Regions from separate parts of the Homo sapiens genome. Here regions 2, 3, 4 and 5 are each linked to region 1. Evidence: fine-mapped expression QTL. A gene starts in region 1. Each other region holds a variant in brackets. All regions are shown on one strand. Distances are from middle to middle. Region 1 holds the start of NME8 (NME/NM23 family member 8). Region 2 overlaps GPR141 (G protein-coupled receptor 141). Region 3 has its middle 51 kb from the start of ELMO1. Region 4 overlaps GPR141 (G protein-coupled receptor 141). Region 5 overlaps NME8 (NME/NM23 family member 8).

The links.
Region 2: its variant is fine-mapped to the expression of NME8 in whole blood (TOPMed, PIP above 0.99). The same link has a PIP of 0.9 or more in monocytes.
Region 3: its variant is fine-mapped to the expression of NME8 in thyroid (GTEx, PIP 0.96).
Region 4: its variant is fine-mapped to the expression of NME8 in whole blood (INTERVAL, PIP above 0.99). The same link has a PIP of 0.9 or more in blood mononuclear cells.
Region 5: its variant is fine-mapped to the expression of NME8 in whole blood (TOPMed, PIP 0.98).

What each region holds. Positions count from the first base shown.
Region 1 is chr7:37,845,855-37,850,961 of GRCh38, reverse strand. NME8 (NME/NM23 family member 8) reads right to left here and starts at 2,365. Exons shown (of 18, transcript NM_016616.5): 1 at 2,234-2,365; 2 at 1,906-2,138; 3 at 663-702; 4 at 527-584; 5 at 227-333. The coding sequence starts at 695.
Region 2 is chr7:37,713,039-37,718,145 of GRCh38, reverse strand. The region is part of intron 2 of GPR141 (G protein-coupled receptor 141); the gene reads right to left. Among named protein-coding and RNA genes, the nearest start is that of GPR141, 32 kb to the right of the region's middle. The variant T/C (reference allele first, on the strand shown) is at 2,824.
Region 3 is chr7:37,496,941-37,502,047 of GRCh38, reverse strand. No RefSeq gene overlaps it. Among named protein-coding and RNA genes, the nearest start is that of ELMO1, 51 kb to the right of the region's middle. The variant G/T (reference allele first, on the strand shown) is at 3,115.
Region 4 is chr7:37,720,669-37,725,775 of GRCh38, reverse strand. All of the region lies in intron 2 of GPR141 (G protein-coupled receptor 141), which reads right to left. Among named protein-coding and RNA genes, the nearest start is that of GPR141, 39 kb to the right of the region's middle. The variant A/G (reference allele first, on the strand shown) is at 2,245.
Region 5 is chr7:37,866,572-37,871,678 of GRCh38, reverse strand. NME8 (NME/NM23 family member 8) reads right to left here. Exons shown (of 18, transcript NM_016616.5): 11 at 3,781-3,977. Among named protein-coding and RNA genes, the nearest start is that of NME8, 21 kb to the right of the region's middle. The variant A/G (reference allele first, on the strand shown) is at 2,245.

The DNA.
Region 1 (5,107 bases):
TTTCACAGTCATGGTAAATAGCCTCGACGTTATAAGAATGGGATAAAAATCATATTCATTCTCAGATCTAGTAGAATTAAATATATAGTAAAACTGCCAAGTAAAGACTATCTATTTTGAAGAACTGACAGGTTGTTTAAATTAAGACAATACTTAAAGTATTAGAGGATACTTAAAAACTTAATATAATGTGAAAACAGTGGTTTAATGAAAACAAAATTCTTACGACAGCAAAATGCAGAATTTCGTCTTCGTTCAGTTCATTTTTCAATTTTCTGAATAAAGGTTGCATTGCTCTGCAAGGTCCACACCAGGCTTGGTAAACATCAATCACTAGAAGATGATGATATTTATGAAATAACAAAGTCTACCAATCTAGGATAGCAGTTATCCCAATCTGGAGCCATGGCCAGGGCAAAGGCACTGCAGGATTTCTTGGTCAAAGTGGGGACTCTAGAGGGACAGGGTGCCAGGAGGAGCTCCGGGTCAAACCCCAGGTGGCCAGACAGCCGGGGAGTCCTTATACCTGTTAAGCCTTTGTTCTGCAACATCTCATCCCACAGGCTTTGATTATTGATGACTGTCTGCAAAGTGGAAGGCACTGTAAAAGGTATTCAAGCACTAGTGCACCAGATAAAGAATTGTTGATATGTCAGACCCACCTGTAACTGGACTTCTCGTTTTTTGCTTGCCATTTATCTACTATCATAGGAAAAAGAAAGAAAAATTTTTAAGTAGGAAATTTAAATAACATTTTCTTTATGCATGCAAATAACATCTTTTAAAACAATTTTTAATTTTTGTGGGTACATAGTAGGTGTATATATTTATGTATCTCTGTATTTATGTACTTAAATATTTGTGTATTTAAATCTGAGATATTTTGATACAGGCATGCCATGCATAATAATCACATCAGGGTAAATGGGGTATCCATCACCTCAAGCATTTATCCTTTGTGTTACAAACAATCCAATTATACTCTTTTAGTTATTTTAAAATGTACAATTTAGATTTTTTGACTGCAGTCACCTGTTTGTGCTAGCAAATACTAGGTCTTATTCATTGTTCTTTTTTTTTTTTTTTTTTTTTGAGACATAGTCTCACTCTGTTGCCAGACTGGAGTGCAGTGGCACAATCTGGGCTCACTGCAACCTCCGTCTCCTGGGTTCAAGCGATTCTCCTGCCTCAGCCTCCAGAGTACCTGTGACTACAGGCACCCGCCACCACGGCGGGCTAATTTTTTTTGTATTTTTAGTAGATACAGAATTTCACCGTGTTAACCAGGATGGTCTCAACCTCCTGACCCGTGATCCTCCCACCTCAGCCTCCCAGAGTGCTGGGATTACAGTATTCATTCTTTCTAACTGCAAATAACATCTTAATGTACTAGTGAAAAATTTCCCCACTGTACATTGGATTATGCAGTGTCATCTTTGCTGGGGAGAGAGAAGCTAATGTCATGGAAGGACTATTGTATGCTAGGCTCTATGCTAAATGCTTATAGCTGCCACACTATCTTATCCTCCCAACAGTCCTGAAGCAAGGTAAGAATGTTAGGAGTTACACGTCGTCTGGTTTTTTTAAAGGTTTTGTTTTCCTGAAATATTAGAAAGTGTTTCCTATATTATCAATTGCAAACAAATGAACATGCCCGTGGATCTTTCTGGGGTCCCTCTTCAGATCTGGCTGCTCTAAGGATATTTAATCTTGAGAACAAGGCCACTAGTGTTTTCTGGGGCACGACATAAACTTCTCAAACTCCCTATTCAGTGGTATCAGGGGCGGTGTAGAACAGGGGTCAGTCAGCGTGCGGGCGATAGTGCACGCTAGCGTACAACAAAGGAAAAGCCACAAACAAGACTGTATTCCAGGAAAGGTGCTGGTTGCTCCGGCAAGCCTTACACAAAACAGGTCCTCCTCTAAGCTAGACTGGGACGTTTAAAGAAAAGGAAGGAACAGGCCCAGAGGATCTAAATCGGCTCCCTCGTTGTGGCCGTTTGAGCGGTGACCTCGGCGAAGTTCCATTCCAGTACCTAGGACCCTGGTAGGGCCCGAGGCTGAGGCTAGCAGGCCTCCTGCTGGGCTTTCTTCTCCAGCTGATTCAGCAAAAGGAAGAAGAGGGATTCCCTGCCTGTCTGGGAAGAAGAAGGGGGGCAATGTTTTGTCCAACCCATCTGCCCGTGAGACTTGAGCGGCGTCTCGAGGCCCCTGCTCCAGACAGCAGCTATACCTGGGCAGTGGGGACAAGACCAGGTGGCGCCTAAAATCCTCCACCTCTTCTGCCCACACAATGAAGGAACAACGAAGTCCTGGTTCCACCATCACAAGACTCTGTTCTTCAGCTGCCTCATCCCCAAACTCCCATCCCCCATCCTCCCATCCCTACGTTCCTCTATCCCCAGATGCGCACCAAGGTGCGCTTTCCCAAGTGCAGATTTGATCATATCTCTCCTCGCCTTTGAATCCTCCTGTGACTGGCCACGCTTTACAGCATAAAATGCATACACCTCAAATCGGAGCAGAAGGCTCTCTGCCAGCACCAGCCTTTTCTTTCTTTTTAACTTTGTCTTCATCTACCCTGGTTTGGTTCTTCTTGTTCTTCTTGTTCTTCTTCTTCTTCTTCTTCTTCTTCTTCTTCTTCTTCTTCTTCTTCTTCTTCTTCTTCTTCTTCTTGTTCTTCTTCTTCTTCTTCTTCTTCTTCTTCTTCTTCTTCCTTCTTCTTCTTCTTCTTCTTCTTCTTCTTCTTCTTCTTCTTCTTCTCTTCTTCTTCTTCTTCTTCTTCTTTCTTCTCTCTTCCTCTTCCTCTTCTTCTTCGTCTTCCTTCTTCTTTTCTTCTTCTTTTCTTCTTCTTCTTCTTTTCTTCTTCTTTTCTTCTTCTTCTTTCTTCTTCTTCCTTCTTCTTTTTCTTCTTCTTCTTTCTCTTCTTCTTCCTCTTCCTCTTCCTCTTCTTCCTCTCCCTCTTCCTCCTCCTCCTCCTCTTCCTCCTCTTCCTCCTCCTCCTCCTCCTCTTCTTCCTCCTCTTCCTCTTCTTCTTCTTCCTCTTCTTCTTCCTCTTCCTCTTCTTCCTCTTCCTCTTCCTCTTCTTTCTTCTTCTTCCTCTTCTTTCTTCTTCTTCTTCCTCTTCTTCTTCTTCTCCTTCTTTCTTCTTCTTCTTCCTCTTCCTCTTCTTCTCCTCCTCCTTCTCCTTCTCCTTCCTCTTCTCCTTCCTCTTCTCCTTCCACTTCTCCTTCCTCTTCTCCTTCCCCTTCCCCTCCTTCTCCTCCTCCTCCTCCGTCTCCTCCGTCTCCTCCATCTCCTTCATCTCCTTCTTCTTCTTCTTCTTCTCCTTCTCCTTCTCCTTCCTCTTCTCCTTCCTCTTCCCCTCCTTCTCCTCCTCCTCCGTCTCCTCCATCTCCTTCTCCTTCTCCTTCTTCTTTCTCCTTCTTCTTCTTCTTTCTTCTTCTTCTTTCTTCTTCTTCCTCTTCCTCTTCCTCTTCTTCTCCTCCTCCTCCTTCTCCTTCCTCTTCTCCTTCCACTTCTCCTTCCTCTTCTCCTTCCTCTTCTCCTTCCTCTTCCCCTCCTTCTCCTCCTCCTCCTCTGTCTCCTCTGTCTCCTCCGTCTCCTCCGTGTCCTTCGTCTCCTTCGTCTTCTTCTTCTTCTCCTTCTCCTTCCTCTTCTCCTTCCTCTTCTCCTTCCTCTTCCCCTCCTTCTCCTCCTCCTCCTCCGTCTCCTCCGTCTCCTCCGTCTCCTCCGTCTCCTTCTTCTTCTTCTTCTTCTTCTTCTTCTTCTTCTTCCTCTTCTTCTTCCTCTTCTTCTTCTTCCTCTTCTTTTTCTTTCTTTCTCTTTCGTTCTTTTTCTCTTTACTTTCCTTCCTCCCTCCCACTTGCAGCATCTGGAAATAATTTTTCACAATAGTTTCTGATTAATCCACAGGCTGAGATACAGAAAGCAACTGTAGAGTAGAGAGGGACACAATGAACCTTTTTGTAGGGATCCTCATCCCTGGAGTGGACCTAATAGATGAGCACGGCTACCTACAGAAGGATTTTTGACCAGGATCATATCCTATCAAGACAGGACATGTAGTACTCCTTCACTTCACCATCTGCAATTTTCTTTCCTTTTTTTTTTTTTATTATACTTTAAGTTCTGTGATACATGTGCAGAAAGTGCAGGTTTGTTACATAGATATACACATACCATGGTGGTTTGCTGCACCCATCAACCTGTCATCTACATTAGGTATTTCCCCTAATGCTATCCCTCCCCTAGCCCCCCACCCCCTGACAGGCCCCAGTGTGTGATGTTTCCCTCCCTATGCCCACGTGTTCTCATTGTTTAACTTCCACTTATGAGTGAGAACATGCGGTGTTTGGTTTTCTGTTCTTGTGTTAGTTTGCTGAGAATGATGGTTTCCAGCTTCATCCATGTCCCTGCAAAAAACATGAACTCGTCGTTTTTTATGGCTACATAGTATTCCATGGTATATATGTGCCACATTTTCTTTATCCAATCTATCGTTGATGGGCATTTGGGTTGGTTCCAAGTCTTTGCTATTGTGAATAGTGCTCCAATAAACATACATGTGCATGTGTCTTTATAATAGAATGATTTATAATCCTTTGGATATATACCCAGTACTGGGATTGCTGGGTCAAATGGTAACAAAAGCCAAAATTGACAAATGGGATCTAATTAAAGAGCCTCTGCACAGCCAAAGAAACTATCATCAGAGTAAACAGGCAACCTAGAGAATGGGGGAAAATTCTTGCAATCCATCTATCTGACAAAGGGCTAATATCCAGAATCTACAAGGAACTTAAACAAATTTACAAGAAAAAAACAAACAGCCCCATCCAAAAGTGGGCAAAGGATATGAACAGACACTTCTCAAAAGAAGATATTTGTGAGGCCAACAAACACATGAACAAAAGTTTTTCATCACTGGTCATTAGAGAAATGCAAATCGAAACCACAATGAGATACCATCTCACACTAGTTAGAATGGCGATCATTAAAAATAGTCAGGAAACAACAGATGCTGGAGAGGATGTGGAGAAATAGGAACGCTTTTACACGGTTGGTGGGAGTGTAATTATTTCAACCATTGTGGAAGACAGTGTGG
Region 2 (5,107 bases), 130 kb after region 1:
CTGAGAGTGACTATTTAGTTCATCACTAGCATGATACTAGATACCTAGTAAACACCAAATACTTTGCTGAACATTTGCTGAATTTAGGGCTTCTAATCACCCTTACTAGTTATAAACTTTTTAACAATTCTAACTTTCAATATAATTGACTTATTTCACCCCAGAGAGAAGAAAGAATACTTCGCAAGGCAATTAGACCAGGGGATCCACTTCCTGGTACATTTATCACACAATTATATTTAACAATTATACTCATGAGCAATGTAAACAATCAGATTTAAGATATATGTGTTTGCCCAAGAGATGTATAAAGATTGTTCAGTAACGAAGGAGGGACACACAGTAAAAGAAGAGCAGTCCTGCCCTCAAGGAGCTTATAATTTAGTGAAGGAGACAGATGCATGTTGTAGAAATTCATGAAGGTAAAATAAGATAGTGCATCAGAGCATTGTTGTGGGAGAACAAGCCAAACTGGGAGAAGGGGGAATCTGAGAAGGCTTCATGCAGGAAGCTGGTTTTGGAGTGACACTTAAAGGCAGAAAGGATTTAGTACACAACAAGGGGGGTGAGAGAAAGAAAGAGGGGGCAGAAAATGTCAGGGATGGACAGCATGAGCCACAAAAGGCAGGCACTGATATGGAAACGTTTGTTAATGAACAAAGTGGTCTTCTCCATTATGGTCTGAAATGCATCAATCAGCAAATACACAACCTCCACCTAGATTTTGACTATCTACTCCTCCTTTTTCAGAAATGTCCTCAATCCTCTTAACCTTTGGGGGAAAGGGAGATTTCAATAAGAAATATATTTGCAATTATCTTTTATTGGTTCAGTTTTAGGCCACCTACTTTAAATGTAGAAGAAAGAAACTGAGCTTTCCTTTTGTAGCTTTGAAAACAGCTTTTCATTCTTCTTCTCGCAAGCCCTCATGCATATTTTCTGAACCACATTCCCTCATAGTGTCTATTATGTATTTAGGAAATGAAGCAAATTTTCACCTTAGTGGAAGACACACATAATTAGCAAGGCCTATCTGTCCTCAGATGCACCCATGGTTTGGACATGGCTTGATTCTCTTTTGATCATATCCATCCTGTAAATTTGAGGCTCTTAGATAGAGGACCTCTCACCTATCTTCCTGGGAAGCTTACATAGAGCTGAGCCCTTTTAAATGCTCACAACACCCTCAGCCCCTTGGCAGGCACTTTATCCATCTCCAATCTGTAAAGGAAAACCCTCCCCTTAATACCTAGAAACAAAGAATTTGAGTTGAAAACTTAGCTGAAAGCTCAGGTATTTTGTGTCTTCTTTTAAAGCAAAAGAGATATAAGTAAACAAATACAGTTGAAACTTTATTCAGAGATAGAAATTCTTAAGAAGGAATCAGATAAGCTGACAGAAAATATACTTTGCAATACACTGGTTCCCTGAGCAAACAGCTAACTCAACAAAGAATATAGAAGTTACCATTTTTCAGCCAACAAGAAATTATACTTTTGTCCACACACTTCTGATTTTTTGACCACACTTATTGGAAAAACTGATCCCAAGTAAAACAGTGAAATTGGGTAATTTTTGTTCTTTGGAGCCCTATATTTTCTACTAAAACCCTGGGCATTACCTCTCCTCATCTTTATGTCTATCTTATTCCCTAACAAGTCTTACTCTCCCTGTGTCCCAGTTTCTCTCAGCATCATATCACACAGAGTTAAAAAAAATTCCTAAGTACCCCTTCTAGCTCTAAGAAATCTTTCACCCCCTTTGAAAATTTTCCATTATTTGTACCAAAAAGTAATTCTCCTTCTCACTCTAATAGGTAGTTGCCACTTTTATGTCACAGCATTTCAGGTTTTGATTATAGTTATTAATTTAGCTCCTCCCTCTCCATAATAAATTATAGGCAGCCTGGACAGGAACTATGTCTAATTCTTGTCAGTTTCTCCCACCGTTCTTAGCAAGCGTGCTCTCTAGATGCGTCTTTGAAAGAATAAATGATGTTGTGGACAGCTGGGTTTGCCTGGCTCCCAGACTCCCATGTCTGTCTGCCTTCCTCAAAGCCTGCCACTTCCATTTCAAGATCCACGTCATTCTGAAAAGTTGACTCTGTCTCAACTCCAAGGATGGGATTCTTGACTTGGGCTATGTTAAATGGAGTAGTGCATTTCACCCCCGCCTCACCCCTAATCACAATTACTAGTTTGGGCTGCACATAAGGCTTATGGTGGTTTAATCAGAATGAATTTCAGGACTCGTTTCAGGAAGGGTGTCAAAGGCAAATTCTCTTGTTTTAGGTAGTGGAATGTGTGCATTGGCGGCCTACAAATGCTGCCACCATGTTATTAACATAACAGAGGTCAATATTTAAACTAATACTCACCTCCTGACGCTAATACCTGCTGGCCACAGTCTTCTAGGGATCTGGTAGAAGAACAGTGTTTTAATATGAAAGGAAACAAACAAAATTTCCTATCAAATTTTGAACCCATCAAAGCCTGACAACCAAAAAAGCTAAATTAGAGATCTATGCAGTTTGCATTATCAAAATGCCATTGTTTCTTCATCTGTAATATGGAACTAACATTGCGATAAACTAAGTAAAGCACCCAGCGTAAGACTGGATGCTGAACAATCACTCCATAAACATCATGTTTCCTTTCCTTTTCCTCCTCATCTAAAGGTTTGGTTTTTTTTAAAGGAGGAAAAAAAACACTATTTAAAGGAGAAAATAGACTGGGCACAGTGGTCCCCAGCACTTTGGGAGGCCGAGGTGGGAGGATTGCCCAAGGCCAGGAGTTCCAGACTGGCCTGGGCAACATAGTAAGA[T/C]CCTTTCTCTACAGAAATAAATTGTAAACAAGAATTAGACACGTTTGGTGGCTCACACCTATAGTCCCAGATACTCAGGAGGCTGAGGCAGGTGAAGTGCTTGAGCCTAAGGAGTTCAAGGCTGCAGTGCGCTGTGATCATGCCACTGCACTCCAGCCTGGGCAACAGAGTGAGACTCTGTCTCTAAAACACAATCAAATAAGATAAATAATAAATAAAAAACTTTAAAACCACTAACATATATCAATAGCCAACAATTCTTGTTAATAATAAATAAAAAACTTTAAAACCAGTAACATATATTAATAGCCAACAATTCTTGTTATAACATGTTTTGCAGAATTCAGGATAAAGACAAATAATATCCAGAAAAGAAATGCTATTTTCTAACTTTCATGAAGATAAAACTAACCCAAATCAGGACTCATAGGGTTTTTTGAAACTCCTAATGCTTGAGACACAGATGAATGGGAAGCCATTGCAAAGAACATAATAGCTTACATCCTGTTTCCACACATCAAAGTAACTGCCATGGCGTAACAGTGCTTGCTACACGAATGGCATATGAAAACAACATGAAGAAAAATAAACATGTTTTTGGACCATATCTTTACAGTAAAACATATTCATTGGAAAGTGAGGACAATGGAAGGGAAGAAATTTCAATTGGCTTTCTTCAAGGTTATTTAGATAAATTGAAATTAGTTTGACTTCTTTTTGGGTTATTCTTTAACTTAAATTGTCCAAGAAGTTAGGTAAACGACCACTAGTAACAAGAGTCCCAAGTTATTCAAAAATCCTTTTATAAACCCAATACTCTAGAACCTAGTGGGCCGTATGGCTGCATAGTAACTATCCTCTGCCATCTTATTTCTATGTTATTGCAATGTGAAGAACACCCATGCTATTATTATTCCCAAACTCTTCCAGAACTGTATAAAGAAATATAGTTCTTTAGGTCCAAGTTCACTGGCTAGTTCCAGTAGCAAAATTATAGACTCTCACACCTTCGATTACCATGATTAAACATAGTAATTGAAATAAGAGAAGAGAAAAATATACAGAGTCTGCATCCCAGTCCCTGTAAATCTCTTCACTTCAAAGTACTAGTCCCTGCAGCTTTACAGAGGATAATAATAACACGTGTTTCCACACTCACAGGCTCTCAAGAGAATAAAAAGAGATGGCACTAACACTTGCCACCCAAACATTCTTTACTACATCTCAGAGAAAAATCTAAAAACTCAAGTATATGGGTAAGAGGACGGGACATGATGAAAAAAAAAAAGATAAGTGAAAAATAATAGAAAAACCATTGGCTTCATAGCCAAACCAAACTATGTGAATTCTGATCTTATTACCATTTCATCCTTAAGCAATGTATTTAATCTTCCTGAGTTCAGTTTTGTTTACATAATGGGGATTGCTCAATCAATACTGCAGTATTGTTGTAAGGTTTAAAGGAGATGACAAACAGATATAAAGGATTTAGTGTAGATTCTTCCATTAGAAGGTTCTCAATATGTGGCAACTAAAATTACACAGGAGAGAAATAACGTCTCAGTCACGTAAATATATAACTGATGGGTATTCTGCAGAATGAACTGGAGGCTTTTTCACAGCAACTTTAAAGACATAGTATCTTTAAAGTGGCAGAACAATTGCAGATATAGAGTCTGAGAATTTTAATTGAGTAATACCATTCAAGGCAGACAAGTATAGCTTTGGAAGCATGAGGAACACAGAAAAGAATTAGAAGAATCTATACACAGAGAAGCAAAATAATTCTGAATAACACCAATCAGATTTGGATACATTGACTAAAGTGTTTTAACAGTTTATTCATAGGAAAGCATTATAAATTAACATCAGGCCAGGCACAGTGGCTCACATCTGTAACTGCAGCACTTTGAGAGGCCAAGGTAGAAGGATTGCTTGAGCCCAGGAGTTTGAGACCAGCCTGGGTAACATAATGAGATCTCTAAGAAAATAAAAAATAACAATAAAAAATTAGCATCAGAATCTAATGGTATTTTATCTAAATTTTCTTACATGTATTTCACTTAATTGATAACACATGGTATATATTTGTGTTAGGGACACTATTTGCCCAATTCTTCATGCACTGCCTATATGAACATTTCCTGACATATAACTTTGCAGTTTCTTCCACTGTAGGAGCATAATGTACTTCTGGCCCTCTTGACCCTGTGTTTGGCCAGGTGACTTGCTTTGGCCCATAGACCAAAGTGGAAGTCACAATGTGCTAGCTTGTGGCTCTGGC
Region 3 (5,107 bases), 350 kb after region 1:
TCATCAAGATAGAATCTCCTTAAGGGACAGTGCAAAGTCACAGAACAAAGGCTCAGAGAAGAAGGTATTCTCAGGCAAGAGCAGAGTCCTATGGATGTGGAAGTCAGGAACTCAGGGTTCCTATAAGAGACCTACAAGAGTGTTCATGTCATGGACTCAGGGGAAATTCACACTAAAGGCGAAGTTTTCAATTCTTTCCCTCATATGTTGCAGTTCCCTTTAATTCCTCTGACCCTTTAACCAACTTTGTGTCAGGTCACCACCTCCAATTCCCAACATGACCCATCAGTCTGCCATCAGGGACCTGTGAAGTGAGGGTCACAACACCAGTGCATTCCAGGCCAGAATGGGAATGCAATGAAAGGTCACCCACTGTGGTACGGAATAGATGCCACAGAGGAGCAGGGCTCAAGTGGAGGACTCAGGGGTGCATGGAAGACAATCTCCACCCCTCCCCAAATATGAGCAGGAAAGGACGTCTCATGTCATGAGAGAAGGTGACACTTGATGATATTAGTAATGCTGAGACAAGCTGTATGGTTTGTATTTCTGGCTCTGCCACTTATGAGCTATGTGACGTTAGTCAAGTTACCTAGCCTTTCTGAGCCTCTGTTGTATCATCTATAAATCAGGGATGAGAATAACACATTTCATAGAGCAGTTATGAGGATAAAACATATTAATATTCATAGAACCTTAGCAGTATCTAGAACTTGTAAACAATGAATGAGGCTGGACACAGTGGCTCACACCTGTAATCTCAACATTTTGGGAGGCCAAAGCAGGTGGATTGCTTGAGCCCAAGAGTTTGAAACCAGCCTGGGCAACATAGTAAGACTCCATCTCTACAAAATATAAACAAAAGTAGCTGAGTGTCATGGCCTATGCTTGTAGTCCCAGCTACTTGGGAAGCCAAGGTGGAACGCTTGCTTGAGCCCGGGAGTTAGAGGCTGCACTCGGCCGAGATTGTGCCACTGCTCTCCAGCCTGGGCAACAGAGTGAGACCTGTCTCAAAGTAAAAATAAAAATAAAAAAAAATAAACAATGAATGTGTTAGCTATTGTACTTACATAGTTATTATAATTAAAACTTTTTGTATTATCTGAATCTTTTTAAAGAGCACATAATTCTATTAAAACATAAATTTATAAAAATATATATTTATCTTTATTAAGCACCTACTATGTTCTAGGCTTTCATTGTACAGTATTATGAATATACTAAATGCCACTGGATTCTTTGCTTAAAAATAGCGATATTGGTAAAATACACACACATTACATGAAATTCACCACTTAAATCATTTTAAAATAGAGAACTCAGTGACGTCTAACACATTCACACTGTTGTGCAGTCTTCACCACTGTCTAGTTCCAGAACATTTGCAGTGCCCCAGAAGGTAGCCCTGTTTTAAGCATCATTTCTCATTACTGTTTCCCTCAGCTTCTGGTAACTGCTAGTCTGCTTTTTGTCCCTGTTTCTCTATTTTGGACATTTCATGTAAGTTGAATTATACAATATGTGGCCTTTCATGTCTGACTTTTTAAATTTACTATCATTTTCTTCAGATTCATCCGTATTATAGCATGTGTCTGTATTTTATTCTTTCTTATAGCTAAAATAATATTTCATCATACGGACATACACATTTTGTTAATCTCTTCATCTGTCCATGGACGTTTGTGTTATTTCTACCTCCTGGCTGTTGTGAATAGAGCTTCTATAACCATGCATGTGCGTGTATTTGTTTGAGTAACTGTTTTCAATTCTTTGGGGTATATACATAGGCATGGAATTGCTGGGTCACATGGAAATTCTATGTTTAATCTATTAAGGATGCAAAGTATATTTTTAAGTAAAGAAAATAATTGCATAATAATATGAGAGGCAATAGAGAGTAATGGAGCCACAAAGCAAGGGTTCGAATCCAGGATTCATCACTTACTAGCTGTTGTCACCTTAGAAAACTTATGTCCTCATTTTCCCATCTGTCAATTGGCAGTAATACTAACCCCTATCCCACCAGGTTGTTACAAAAATTAAGGGAATTAATATATGTGGTATAATTAGAACAATGCACATGATGTACTTATTTTGGTTTAGTTCTGTTTGCATGCCTATGTATAGACTATATACGTAATTGTTTAAATCAAACTATTAAGACTGGTTGCCTTTGGGAAGTGGATTTGAAGGATAAAAGACAGGGCCCTGTCAGCCGGGCGTGGTGGCTCACGCCTGTAGTCCCAGTACTTTGGGAGGCCGAGGCGGGCGGATCACTTGAGGACAGGAGTTCAAGACCAGCCTGGCCAACATGGTGAAACCCCGTCTCTACTAAAAATACAAAACAATTAGCCGGGCACGGTGGCAGGCACCTGTTATCCCAGCTACTCAGGAGGCTAAGGCAGGAGAATTGCTTGAACCCAGGAGGCGGAGGTTGCAGTGAGCTGAGATCACGCCATTGCAATCCAGCCTGGGCAACAAGAGTAAAACTCCATCTAAAAAAAAAAAGCAAAAGACAGAGCCCTGTCCTCTTTTTATTTTGTCTGTGCATTTCTCTCTGTAATGAGCATGTATTAGTAGTCACAATATTTTGAATTAATGAGGTTTTCTTTTTAAGATGCAAAGTGACCCATTCAATGACTCAAAACCCTTCAGTGATCTTATAGCAGTGGTTCCCAAAGGCCTTCATGCTGGCTGGACACATAAAATCACTTAAAGAACTTATCCAAAATACAGATCATCCTACTCCTCATTTGGCCTTATTGAATCACAAGTTCTGGTTGATTCTAATGTGCCATGATGTTTGAGAACCAGAGAGTCTACACTATTTCCATGACCTGGTCTCTCAGTGTCTTTCAGTTTCATCTTCCCGTCTTCCTTCCTAATAAAGCTTCCCAGCCAGGCGCGGTGGCTCACGCCTGTAATCCCAGCACTTTGGGAGCCTGAAGCGGGCAGATCACCTGAGGTCAGGAGTTCAAGACCAGCCTGACCAACATGGAGAAACCCCGTTTCTACTAAAAATACAAAAATTAGCCGGGCGTGGTGGCACAGGCCTGTAATCCCAGCTACTTGGGAGGCTGAGGCAAGAGAATCACTTGAACCCAGGAGGCGGAG[G/T]TTGCAGTGAGCTGAGATTGTGCCATTGCACTCCAGCCTAGGCAACAAGAGTGAAACTCCGTCTCAAAAAAAAAAAAAAAAAGCTTCCCACCTATTATTTGACATGCTCTTCTATGCCTCAGGATGTGTCTTTGCCTAGAACGCAAGCCCCGTTTAACTTTGTTCTTTGAATTACTAACCCCTGTTTATTCTTCAGTACTCAGTTCAAGCATTTGTCTCCTCCAAGATCCACTGTTATCAAATGAAGTATGTCCAACAAATGAAATACTTAGTCTGTCCGAAAATGAAGTAAATTTCTTCTCTTTTGGTCTCCCAGAACATTCTTTAGCAGTAGCTCAAAAACATCTTCTCCACATACATTGAAACTGTTTTTTCCCATGTCTGTTTTTGCTCCCACCCAACTGAGGTCTTGAGGGCAGAGACAATGTGCTGTGTAGCGATTCTTAACTAAAGATTTCACCATGAAATGAATAGTTCAATTTTATAATAAATACTTAAGTGTATATATATGTGTATTTATACATATATAATTATAATTATATATGTATAATTCACAGTAAACTATGTAGTAAATTACAGGGCACAGAGAACACTGGCCCAGTTTTTCCAAATTCATATTTAATATATGCATGCAGATATTTGTGCATGTGCATGGGAATACTTCTGAGTTAAAATAACCTCTGAAGCCAATGTTTCCTAAAGCCAGTTTCTAGAAACACTAGTGTCAGGAGCTCCTCAGTGAGAAGAAAGGATTTCATTGGTAATGAAATTAAACACTCTACGATAGCCTACACTAAGAGCATTTCTGGTCATGTTATTTGACCACAACACTATTTCAAATACATCTATGAGCATTCAGAGAAAGTAGAGTTCTGCGGACCCACATTTTTAGAAATGCTGCATAACGTACTTAACCAGTTCTTTTTCTGAAGTGACAGAGTGGTCACGCTTAGTTGTCGTGGCATGGTGTGGAACAATTTCCATTGGAGTAGGCCACGCTCTTACTATGCTCTTACCACCACCAGAAGCAAAAGACACTTTCCAAGTGGCAGTCTATTTCGGGACAATCTATTTTATATTTTCCACCACTGAGAATTCCACTCTGCTTTCACAGGCAGTTCTTTCAGCTGAATGAATCGTGTTTTCTCCTTTGGGGGCGTGTGTAAATGAATTGCTAACCGTTTTGAATAGCACCCATCTGTGACAACAGTCATGCTTATGGGTGGCAGTTAATTAAGACAGCTTGGAAGATGACGATGTCTTACAAATAAGAAGGGAAGAAACAGGGACTGTCTTTTTTATAGAGTCATATTTATAATATCATAATTATTGTATGTATTTATAGTATTATATTTATTGCTTGTATTCCATTTTCTTAAATTAAGGTATAGTTTTGGGACTATCAAAATGCACTCCTAATTTATAATGTTGCATGGGACAAGGACAGAACTTGGCTTCTCCTATTTTATTCCTGAAATCTTAGAACAGGAAACCCTACACTATCCATTTATGTTTGTGGCTTTGCATTCAGCATAAAATTAAATTTTCTCTGGCATCATTTGTCAAGAAAGCTTTTAAAGCAGTGATTTCCCTGAGTTCCTTATGTAGGCAGCCCATCTTCATTTTATTTTATTTATTTTTTTGAGATGGAGTTTCACTCTGTCACCCAGGCTGGAGTGCAGTGGCGCGATCTCGGCTCACTGCAGCCTCTGCCTCCCGGGTTCCAGCGATTCTCCTGCCTCAACCTCCCTGGTAGCTGGGATTACAGCCATGCACCACCATGCCCAGCTAATTTTTGTATTTGTAGCAGAGATAGGGTTTCACCACGTTGGCCACGCTTGTCTCGAGCTCCTGACCTTAGGAGATCCGCCCGCCTTGGTCTCCTAAAGTGCTAGGATTACAGGCGTGAGCCACCACACCCAGCCTGGTAGCCCATCTTTAAAACCACCAACATCACCCAACAAGTGTGGGACATCACCCAGCAAGTTATATC
Region 4 (5,107 bases), 130 kb after region 1:
CACACAATTTATAATTTGTTCCTTCTTCCACCTACAAAAAGAAGAAATTTTGTCTATCACTCTGTGACTACACTAAAAACCACTGAATTGTGGTTCACCAACCATAAAGTTGTCCTTTGAAAAAAGAATGACTTTTATAGTTGGTGAATTATATTTCAGTAAAGCCATTGTGCAAAAAAAGAGAGAAAGAAATTGCGTCTGAGCTGAGCCTTGGGGATGAGGGAGGAGGGGGAGAATTATTGACAGAGAATCAATGCTGCCGGTGACTGCCTTCATTCATTCATATCAAGGGCAGAGCAGGAAACTCCCTGGTTAGAGGACTAGGAGGATGCCGTGCCAGGAACCAGGAGCCCTGGATGCCTCACCCTGCTCAAGTTCGCAGGCCTGGTCCCTCTGATGTGGCCGCTCATTCCTCCTTGCTCCCCGCTCCATCCCTGGCTTCACTTCTTTCTGCTGCACCTTGAACAGATGGGACTGCAGATTCACCTTCTTGATTCTTGACCACTCAATACAAGGAACCAGCCCTACCCAAGCCATGTTCTTCATAACACTGATCACTGTCATCTCACTTTTTCTTTGTCATTCTCTATATTCACCCCTTCTTCCAAGAAGAAAAGATCCATGAGAGTGGTCATGGTGTCTCCATCTCCAGGAGAGAAGGAACCCTTGGACCAGGAATCAGAAGAAAAAATCACAAATTCTTAGTGTCAGAGTGAAACCTAGAGATTATAGCATCCAGTGCACCCATTTAACTAAGGAAGACACCGAGGCCCACACAGCGACCTTTGAAAGCTAGCACGGCTTGTCACTGGCTAAATTCCAGGTTCTGTGTCTCAGTCTGGGACTATTCCTGTGACACAGCACTACTAAAGGCAGACTCCAGAGGCCCAGCAGGACAGACGGCAGCTTCTAATCAAGAGAACTATGCTTTAAGTCCAGCCCCATAGGCCCCACCTCAAGGACACCAGTTGGGAGCCAGGATGGATGTCCAGCCCCAGCTAGAAGAGGCATCACAGGTTGTTCTGAGAAAAGGTTGTCAGCAGACAAATGGCTTCCTGCCTTTGAGCTCTCCTTAGAACGAATTATAGTTTGTTGTGTTTGCAGAAAACAAATAGGAACAGTCACTTTAATCACTCACTCAGGGAAACTCAAGCAGCAGTTCATCCAAAATATATTGAGAAAAGATTCTGGGATGGCAGCTCCCACATTAAGGACGAGCTCAGTGTAGCTAAAAAACCAAAACCAAAAAAATCTGTCTGAAAATATCTGAAGCAGTGTGGGAAACAATAAAAAAGAAATATCAACTCTAAAGAAATTCACTGCAGAAGGTTATATGCCTAAGTAACATATAAAAATTGCCCCCTGCTTTGTTCATATTCGAACTCTCTCTCACAGTCCTCCTCCTCTGTACATCCTATTTCTGAAGTTTGAAAGGACTCTCTTGGGTTTTCTATGGTTTTTTTAATAGCAAAAAAAAATGTATATATATATTTTTTAGGCAGTTTCAAGTAAAGTTAGATCTGCAGCCTCACTCATCAAAGACATCATTTTTCACCAAAGAGCAGGCTTCTGGATTTGAGCTATCCTTTCTCTCCTCACTTGAGGAGTTCACCATTGCTGCTGACTCTCTAAAGGTGAGGATGCAAGTTCTGGTTACCTACAAGGGAAGTGGGAGCTGAAACTCAGAGGCTTTGTGTCTGTGTAGAGTGAGCCACACTGCTCTGCAAGGCACCCAGGGCACCCCTGCTGCCACCCATGTTCTCGAAAATAAGGAACTGTCAGTGAGTTCTTTCCATTCCCAGGGAGAGCCTTGCATAGATCTGTAGGTCTGCAGATATTGAAATGTGCTATGAATTCTGATCTTTGTGAATGTCCATCTCCTTACCAGAAATTTTGCTTCAAAGAAATCTTTCATTGTCCAGGAACTGTGCTTTATTCTCAGAAACTGTTAAATCTGGGGGACTGTGTTCCTGGCATTCCTGAGTGTCCAGTGCTACTACAGCCTTGTTGCCACCTTTGACACACCATCTGGCCTACTTAATCCACCCAACCTCAAAAGACAGAGAAACATGTCTATACGGACATGTAAGGGACGAGGCCTTCAGACAGGCAAAACGTGGTATCCAACAATGCTGGTAACTTCCTTGCCTCCAAGCCTCCTTATGGCCCATGAAGCACTAAAATGTGATAGAGCAAGAATAGGACATCACTAAAGGAGGCTGCTTTTCACATCACCATTTCACA[A/G]GATTCACTCTGTGCTTCACCCAGTATCATAGTTTCCTCCCTCCCTCACCATGTCCACTTCAGGCATTTCACTATCTGCTTGCTCATCTTCCGTGCCATTCACTTTTTTTTTTTCTTCCTAGTAACTTCTAGGGTTTTATTTCTTTTTATTTTCTCAGTGTTTCTGGTATTTTTTATATTAATAAAAAAAGAGGCAACTAAAAGGCACTAAAGAAAAATTAGGCATTTCTGGACTCTTAGGCCAGGCACGGTGGCTCATGTCTATAATCCAGGCACTTTGGGAGGCCGAGGTGGGTGGATCACCTGAGGTTAGGAGCTCAAGATGAGCATGGCCAACATGGTGAAATCCCGTCTGTACTAAAAATACAAAAATTAGCCAGGTGTGGTAACACACTCCTGTAGTCCCAGCTACTCAGGATGCTGAGGCAAGAGAATCACTTGAACCCAGGAGGCAGAGGTTATAATGAGCCAAGTGGTACAAGATACCACTGTACTCCAACCTGGGCAACAGACTGAGACTCTGTCAAAAAAAAAAAAGAAAGAAAGAAAGAAGGAAGGAAGGAAGGAAGGAAGGAAGGAAGGAAGGAAGGAAGGAAGGAAGGAAGGAAAGGAAAAAGAAAAATTAGAACAGAATTTTTCCACTTTTTAAAATATTAGTGTATTTTCTGCTAATATCTTTCTATGCATCTGTGTTAGATTGTTAGATAGTGATAATATTGCACCTCAATTTTCAAACCATGTTTTTTGCTAGTAATGTATAATACCAAAGTACTTAGCCTTGGAGTTTCTGAACTTTTTTTTTTTTTTTTTTGAGATGGAGTCTGGCTCTGTCACCCAGGCTGGAGTGCAGTGGCATAAGTTGGCTCACTGCAACCTCCACCTCCTGGGTTCAAGCAATTTTCCTGCATCAACCTCCCAAGCAGCTGGGATTACAGGCACCTGCAACCATGCTCAGCTAATTTTTGTATTTTTAGTAGAGACGGGGTTTCACCATGTTGGCCAGGCTAGTCTCGAACTCCTGACCTCAAGTGATCTGCCCACCTTGGCCTCCCAAAGTGCTGGGATTAGAGGGGTGAGCTACTGTGCCCGGCTTTTTTTTTTTTTTAAGAGAGGGAACCTTACTATAGTGCTTAGGCTGGTCTCAAGCTCCTGGCCTCAAGTCATCCTCCTGCCTCAACCTCCCAAGTAGCTGGGACTGCAGATGCAAGCCAGCATGCCTGACCTGTTTCCGTGCACTTTTATACGACCGTATAACATCTCATCAAGTGGATGTCTCCAAAGTGATTTAATCAAATTTTCAATGATGTTATGTTTCTAACTTATTGTTATAAATAACTCTAGGACAATCACTTTTGTGAATTTAGTGTTTTACATATTTTAGATTTTTCCAGAAGGTGGTGTCCAATAAAAAAGTGGTCATATGACATGAAAGTATTTGTGGATATAGATTAATAGTGCCAAGTTGCTTTATGTTGACAGACATGAAATATTTCCTTAAAGTCAAAAGTTTATTTCTGCTTTCTAATTTAAACTATTCCTGTCAAGAAGTTTTCCAATATGTTATCCAGATGACTTCAATCAACCATTAATCTTTATTCACTGTAGGTGAAATATACTTGTAGGCAAAATTCTGAAATGAACAAGACAAAAAAGGCTGTGGATAAAATATATCCTTCAAGTAACCCATTGCCCCCTGAGACAGACACCATACTTTCAGGCCTCCACAGTCTAGGCTGACAGTGAGAGAAGACTCTCCCAGAAGTTCTAAAAATTGTGTCTCCACTTTACACCCAAACAGAGACGTGGAGAAATTGTCAACCTTTGTCTTGGAGCCCAATATAATCTGCCAACAAGTTCAGCTGCCACGCCAACAAAAAATCTAGGGAGGACCAAGAATGGAAAATAATTTTAGGACACGTTGGGCATGTTTCTAATGGGCATTTCATCTGTAGAAGTAACCAACATCTATGGATGGAAAACACCACACCACCAAAGGGAAAGCCGTTCAGAGAAGACCTTTCTTAAATCAAAGCTACTGAGACATTAACCAGGCCAATCTGTCCAAGATAACCCTTACTCTGTCTTCAGCCCCAGGTACCTCTAGGTTTATGCCTTTTCACCAATAACGGGCACATCTATTGTAGCATAATGTATTGATAACTTTTGTCACCAGGTCCTGAGTGCCTCTTCAGTTCCTGGCACTAAGATGGAAATTTCTTATATGATACTTATAATCCTCCCAAGAAATCCAGGACAAGGGTACTTTTATTCCAAATATTAGTTGAAGAAATGAAGCTCGGAAAAGTTAAGCAACTTTCTGGGTTCACTCAACTAACAAATGACAGCCCTGAAATTGGAGACCCAGGCTGTTTGACTCTGAAGCCTAAATGTTCTGCAGCACATCACAGGGTCACAGCAACACAGAAGTCCCTTTCCTATGAAAAAAGAGAAAAAGTGACATTTCTTCACTGCTCCATCCCTGCTCTCCTTCGGAGCTGTGGATTCCCCTAGACAATTGGTCCTTGTTTTTCAACTGTATTGTTTGTATCTCTATGACCAATTATCAGGGTATTGAAAAGCAGTTAATTAGAATACTAGAAGAGGACTTGGAGAAGTAATTAAAACAGGCCTACTCAAGTTCTCTAAAGCCAATAAATGTTTGAAAAGCAGTTCATCAGATTGCAATGTAAGAGAAAAATAAAACTGCACTAAAAATTTAATTCCCCAAATTTAATGTATCCCAGAGAGGGTTCTGAACCCTTTTCTTAATTTCTCTTTTTTTTTTTTTTTTTTGAGACGGAGTCTGGCTTTTGCCCAGCCTGGAGTGCAGTGGCGCAATCTCAGCTCACTGCAAGCTCCGCCT
Region 5 (5,107 bases), 21 kb before region 1:
TCATAAAGACTTAAACTGAAAGTGAGCTCAGAGGTCATCATCTAATTCTTCCCCATCTTTGTATCTCTAGGATTTGGCATATAGTAGGTCTTTAATAAATACTAGATGAATGAATCAACACATAACAGAATAAGTGAATGAATGAGAAGACTCTGCCAGTTACTACCTGTGTGACTCTGAGCAATGTAGCTAATGGAACCACACCTTCCTGATCTGTAGAAAGACTGGAAAGCAAAGATAAATTACACTATCCTTTGATTTCTTAAAACAGGCTGATTAAAGAGACAGACATGTAAATAATGTAATAAAAAGCCATCATGAAAGAAGCTGGAATGTGAATGACAAACATGGGTACCTCTGCCCTGTTTCCCTGGCTCTTCCCCCACCCTTCTGCAGCCACTGGAGCAGGCAGACCATCGATGGCATGGAGAGAGTTTCCCCACAGCATGTGAATTCATAAGCTGTGAGTGTTTGTCTCCACAGGAATAACCAGCCAATAAAGCTCTGGGACTCCGCTGCTCTGTACGCAGAGGGGTCACCAATCACTCCCAGTTCAATTGCTCTGCTTTTAACTTCTCTCCTGTCTCACCCTCTCCATCCCCACCACCCAGAGAGGAGAGTGAGCAGGCTGGGAGATAGGGGAGAGGGGGCAATAAAGAGTGAAAGTGAACAACTGAATAAATTACGCATGAGAGTTTTTTGTCCTTATTCCTTTAGATTCTGGACCTACTTGAAAGATGTCACATGGAAGTGACAGTGCCTATCAGGCCCTCCCTCCAGAGCAAGAGCTGTGAAAATAAGAACAAGCATTATAGAAGTCAGGGGAAAGCTTCCCCTCTGTCCTCTCAAGTTTTACTGAAAAACCAACGGGCATCAACAGACAAAAAGTATATTAGTTGGAGAAAAAGCAGACAAATTTGATTAACATGTACACAGAGAGAACCACAGAGTGAGTACCCACCCTGCAATGAGGTTCAGAAGCCTATAGACCAAGCTTGTCCAACCTGCAGCCCACTGGCTGCATGAGGCCCAGGAAGGCTTTGAATGTGGCCCAACACAAATTGGTAAACTTTTTTTTTTTTTTTTTTTTGAGATGGAGTCTCACTCTGTCACCCAGGCTGGAGTGCAGTGGCTCGATCTTGACTCACTGCAATCTCTACCTCCCAGGTTCAAGCGATTCTCCTGTCTCAGTCTCCCAAGTAGCTGGAACTACAGGCATGCACCACCACACCCAGCTAATTTTTGTGTTTTTAGTCGAGACTGGGTTTCACCATGTTGATCAGGCTGGTCTCGATCTCCTGACCTCATGATCTGCCTGTCTCGGCCCTCCAAAGTGCTGGGATTACAAGCATGAGCCACCGCACCCGGCTCAAATTGGTAAACTTTTAAAAACATTATGATATATATTTTTTGCGAGTTCTTTTTTTTTTTTTAAGTTCATCAGCTATCATTAGTGTTAGTGTATTTTATGTGTGGCCCAAGACAATTCTTCTTCTTCCAGTGTGCCCCAGGGAAGCCAAAAGATTGGACACCCCTGTTATAGACCATCTGGCAAAACAGGTAATGGGAGCAGGGAGAAGAATTCTGTTGAAGGACAGTAAAGGATGACGAGGGAGAATGAATGGACCAACGCACAGAAATTAACTTGTACACTATCTCCGTTCAGATGTGGTTACATTCTTGGTCTTATAGGGAGAGGAAGAAAAATAATTGTTCCTGTCGGATCTGAGGATCTTAGGCAGATAAAAGAAATTCAGCTTCATCCTGTGCTTTGAGAGAGACTGCTGGCCGGGAGTGCTGGGGCAAGTCAGAGAGATTGTGAGGCTTTTTCAGTTCAGCATGTCAAAGCGCCATATTTTGAGTATCAGTTTCTGAGCCCGAGCACACCAAACAAGCATGCTCCACACTGTCCCATGCTGTCTGCTGTGGCCAGCTTGGGATAAACATGGGCCAAAGGCACATGGGGACTCTAAGTTTAGAAAGGAAATACTGTAGACTGTGCCAGAGCAAGGTGTACACATTTCATTTCACTCTGATCTGGCCCCTATAGTGCTTGCCCTTGTTCTGGAGGGAGAGCTGCTGGCATTTCCTTCTGACATGCCAATTAACATGCCTAAATTGTCCATGGTGTCATGCGAGTATTGGACAATTGGAGCTTCTCAAAGTTGGTTGTAATGGAGGTTTACTACCTAAACAATAGCCCCATGGAATGATGACTTCACTCGTCACATTAATGAGTGCTTC[A/G]TAGAACGCTTTTTGTTTTTTGAATGGCTCAAAATTTCTAGGATAAAATCTGGTATCTTTTTAAACTTAACACACCCTACCCAACAAACCTTCCCTCAGCCCACTCATTATTATTTTCCCTTAAAACCCTGAAAGTAACTGCTACTGTTTAAAAAGCTCCTTGCCAGCAGGATTTACCTTATGAGTTCCTTTATCCTGCGTACAACTTGGAATTAATGATATTAGGATCTCCCACTTCCTAAAAATATGGCATCACTAGGAGCCAACAGAGGTAGGCACCCAAGAAAAGCCACTATGATTCATTAATAAGTCAAGAAGGACCAACAAGGGACATTCTGGATAGTCTCAGCCAGAAAATGCAATGGAGATGGGCTGCCAAGCACGGGGAGACACATCCCAGGAAGCCTCAAGGCTCAGATACTCTAAGTATGTTCTTGCTCACCTGACTTTCTTTCCGGTGCAGCCTGACAACTGCTTTGTTACACTCTCCATTCTCTGAGTCTTCAGAGGAATAACAGGCGCAAACAGCAGCGCATAAAACCAACATTCTACAAATTATTTATATCCATTTTCTAATATTTTAAAATCCATCAACAAAAAATATACAACCGTTTTGTTCTCAGTAATTTGTAACCACAAACCATCTAAAGTAAAAGTGCATGTTTCATGTTTTTAGGGCACCGGGAAGGTGGAAGGGGAAGGTGGGGAGATGGGAGAGGAGACTGAGTTGGCAGGGATTATACATGGTTCCAATACACCCTTCAAGCCCCAGCCCTTGTGGCCAGACTGGTATGCCCAGCTCTAGGAAGACAAACAGGGAAAAGGCCTCCCTTTCTAGTGTTCTTGACATAAACTTTCAGGGCAGTCACAGTGAGGGGAGCAAAGATCACCTGAGGGCCACCAAGCTGACTATCCAGAGGCAAAACTCCTTATCTGAGGAATTTAGAAGTAACTAGACTTCCCTATTATTTAAAGCTGGCATCTGGTACCAGGCTTAAAAAAAAAGTTATAAGTAACTAGAATTTCTATACATCTCCGGAATGCATGCATGTTCAAACTCATTGTGCAACCCTTGCTGACATCAAGGCACCAACATGTCTACAAGTGCAATTATTTATCATGACCTGTGTGGCTAATAAGGTCCAAATTACCCTTAAGCTCCAGCTTTAAGGTCCATAAATATCCCTAAACAAAAATCCACCATGGCGAGCTCAGTCCTCTCTCACTGAGGAGCCCCGCTGCACTCTTCTGCAGTGCTCTTTCTATCTAACAAAACTTTTCTTTCAAACCTACACTGTCATCTGTAAATTCTTACTACCCTACAACCCACAAGCCAACTACTTTTTCCAATGCCAGGTATCTGACACTTCACCTGGCACACAGCTCTTCTGAATATACAGTATGTTAGGTTGACTGGAAGAAATACTTATGCCTTTAACATAAAAACATTTGCCCTTAGGTACTGAGGTGCCTACACTACGCTTCATTACCCAATAACACATTGCAAGTAACACAATTCCTGGTCTTGAGCTATACCTGTCTTGTTTGTTCTTCATCATTCCAGGTGTAACCTGGGCTTCGACCTCAGGTTGATCCTCAGATCGTTCGTTAGGTTCGGTGTCAGTCTGTGGTTCGGTTTCTTCAGAGGGAGGATTGTGTTTACTTCCTTGAGATACAACTAGAATATAGCTTAAGCCACTTGTCATAAAAGAGACAAACTCTTCGAAGTCACACTACAAAATAAAATGATAAACTGTTTCCTTCAGGCTCCTGAAATGGATGGACTAAAATGGTGGTCACTACCCAAGTCAAATGAAATCTTCCCTCTCCATGGTCCCTGGGCAAAGGAATGTTACTCTTATAAATCTCCTGTTAACAATACATTTTTATTGTTTGGGGGTTTTTATTTTTGCTTTTTATTGAAAAATAATTGCATATATTCATGGGGGACATAGTGATGTTTCAATAAAGAAAATGTATAATAACCAGAGCAGGGTAAATTTGTATCCTTAGAAAAATAAATCTCTTGGACCCCAAAATCACTAAGCCAAAGGGAAAAGTCAAGCTGGGAACTCCATCAGGCAAACGTGCCTCTCATTTTATTCCTAAATAAGATTGCTACAAAGATTAAAAAAAAAAAAGCTACATACCTCCCTCATAATTTGTCCACAAGGAAATTCCTTGTGGGCCTCAAGATCTTTACCCTAAAACAGTTCTGTTGGATTTCACCCTGGCAATGTAAATTGATAATTGATAGCTTATCTTCACTGGTAGGGGACAGAGGACAGACAGAGCCAAAAGTCATCCCGCTGCTCACCAGACACAAATGCACATCTGATGGCTTCCTCTGCTCAGTTGTTTATGTAAAAACGCAGATTCACTAAGCAAGACTAAGGCATAAGTGACTATTCCTCTATGTCATCTCACATGTAAATCGTGTATTCAGTAAAAGCCTCATCAGAGACTCAGAAGAATGCTATTGATTGTCTCTTATCTACCTAAGACCTGGAAGCAACCCTGCTTCAAGTTGTCCCACCTCTCCAGGAAGAACCAATGTACGTATTACACATATTGATTGATGTCTCATGTCTCCCTAAAATGTATAAAATCAAGCTGTGCCCCGACCACCTTGGAAACATGTCATCAGGGCCTCCTGAGGCTGTGTCATGGGCGTGTCCTTAACCTTGGCAAAATAAACTTTCTAAATTGATTGCAACCTGTCTCAGATACTTTTGGTTCACATCTTTAACAAATCTCTCCCTATCCCTTCCCAGTCACTAGTCTCCTACATTTTTAAGTGGCAGAAGTTCAAAGCTAGTAGGAATTTATCTTAAAGGTAACCTAACAATATTCCCAAATTTAG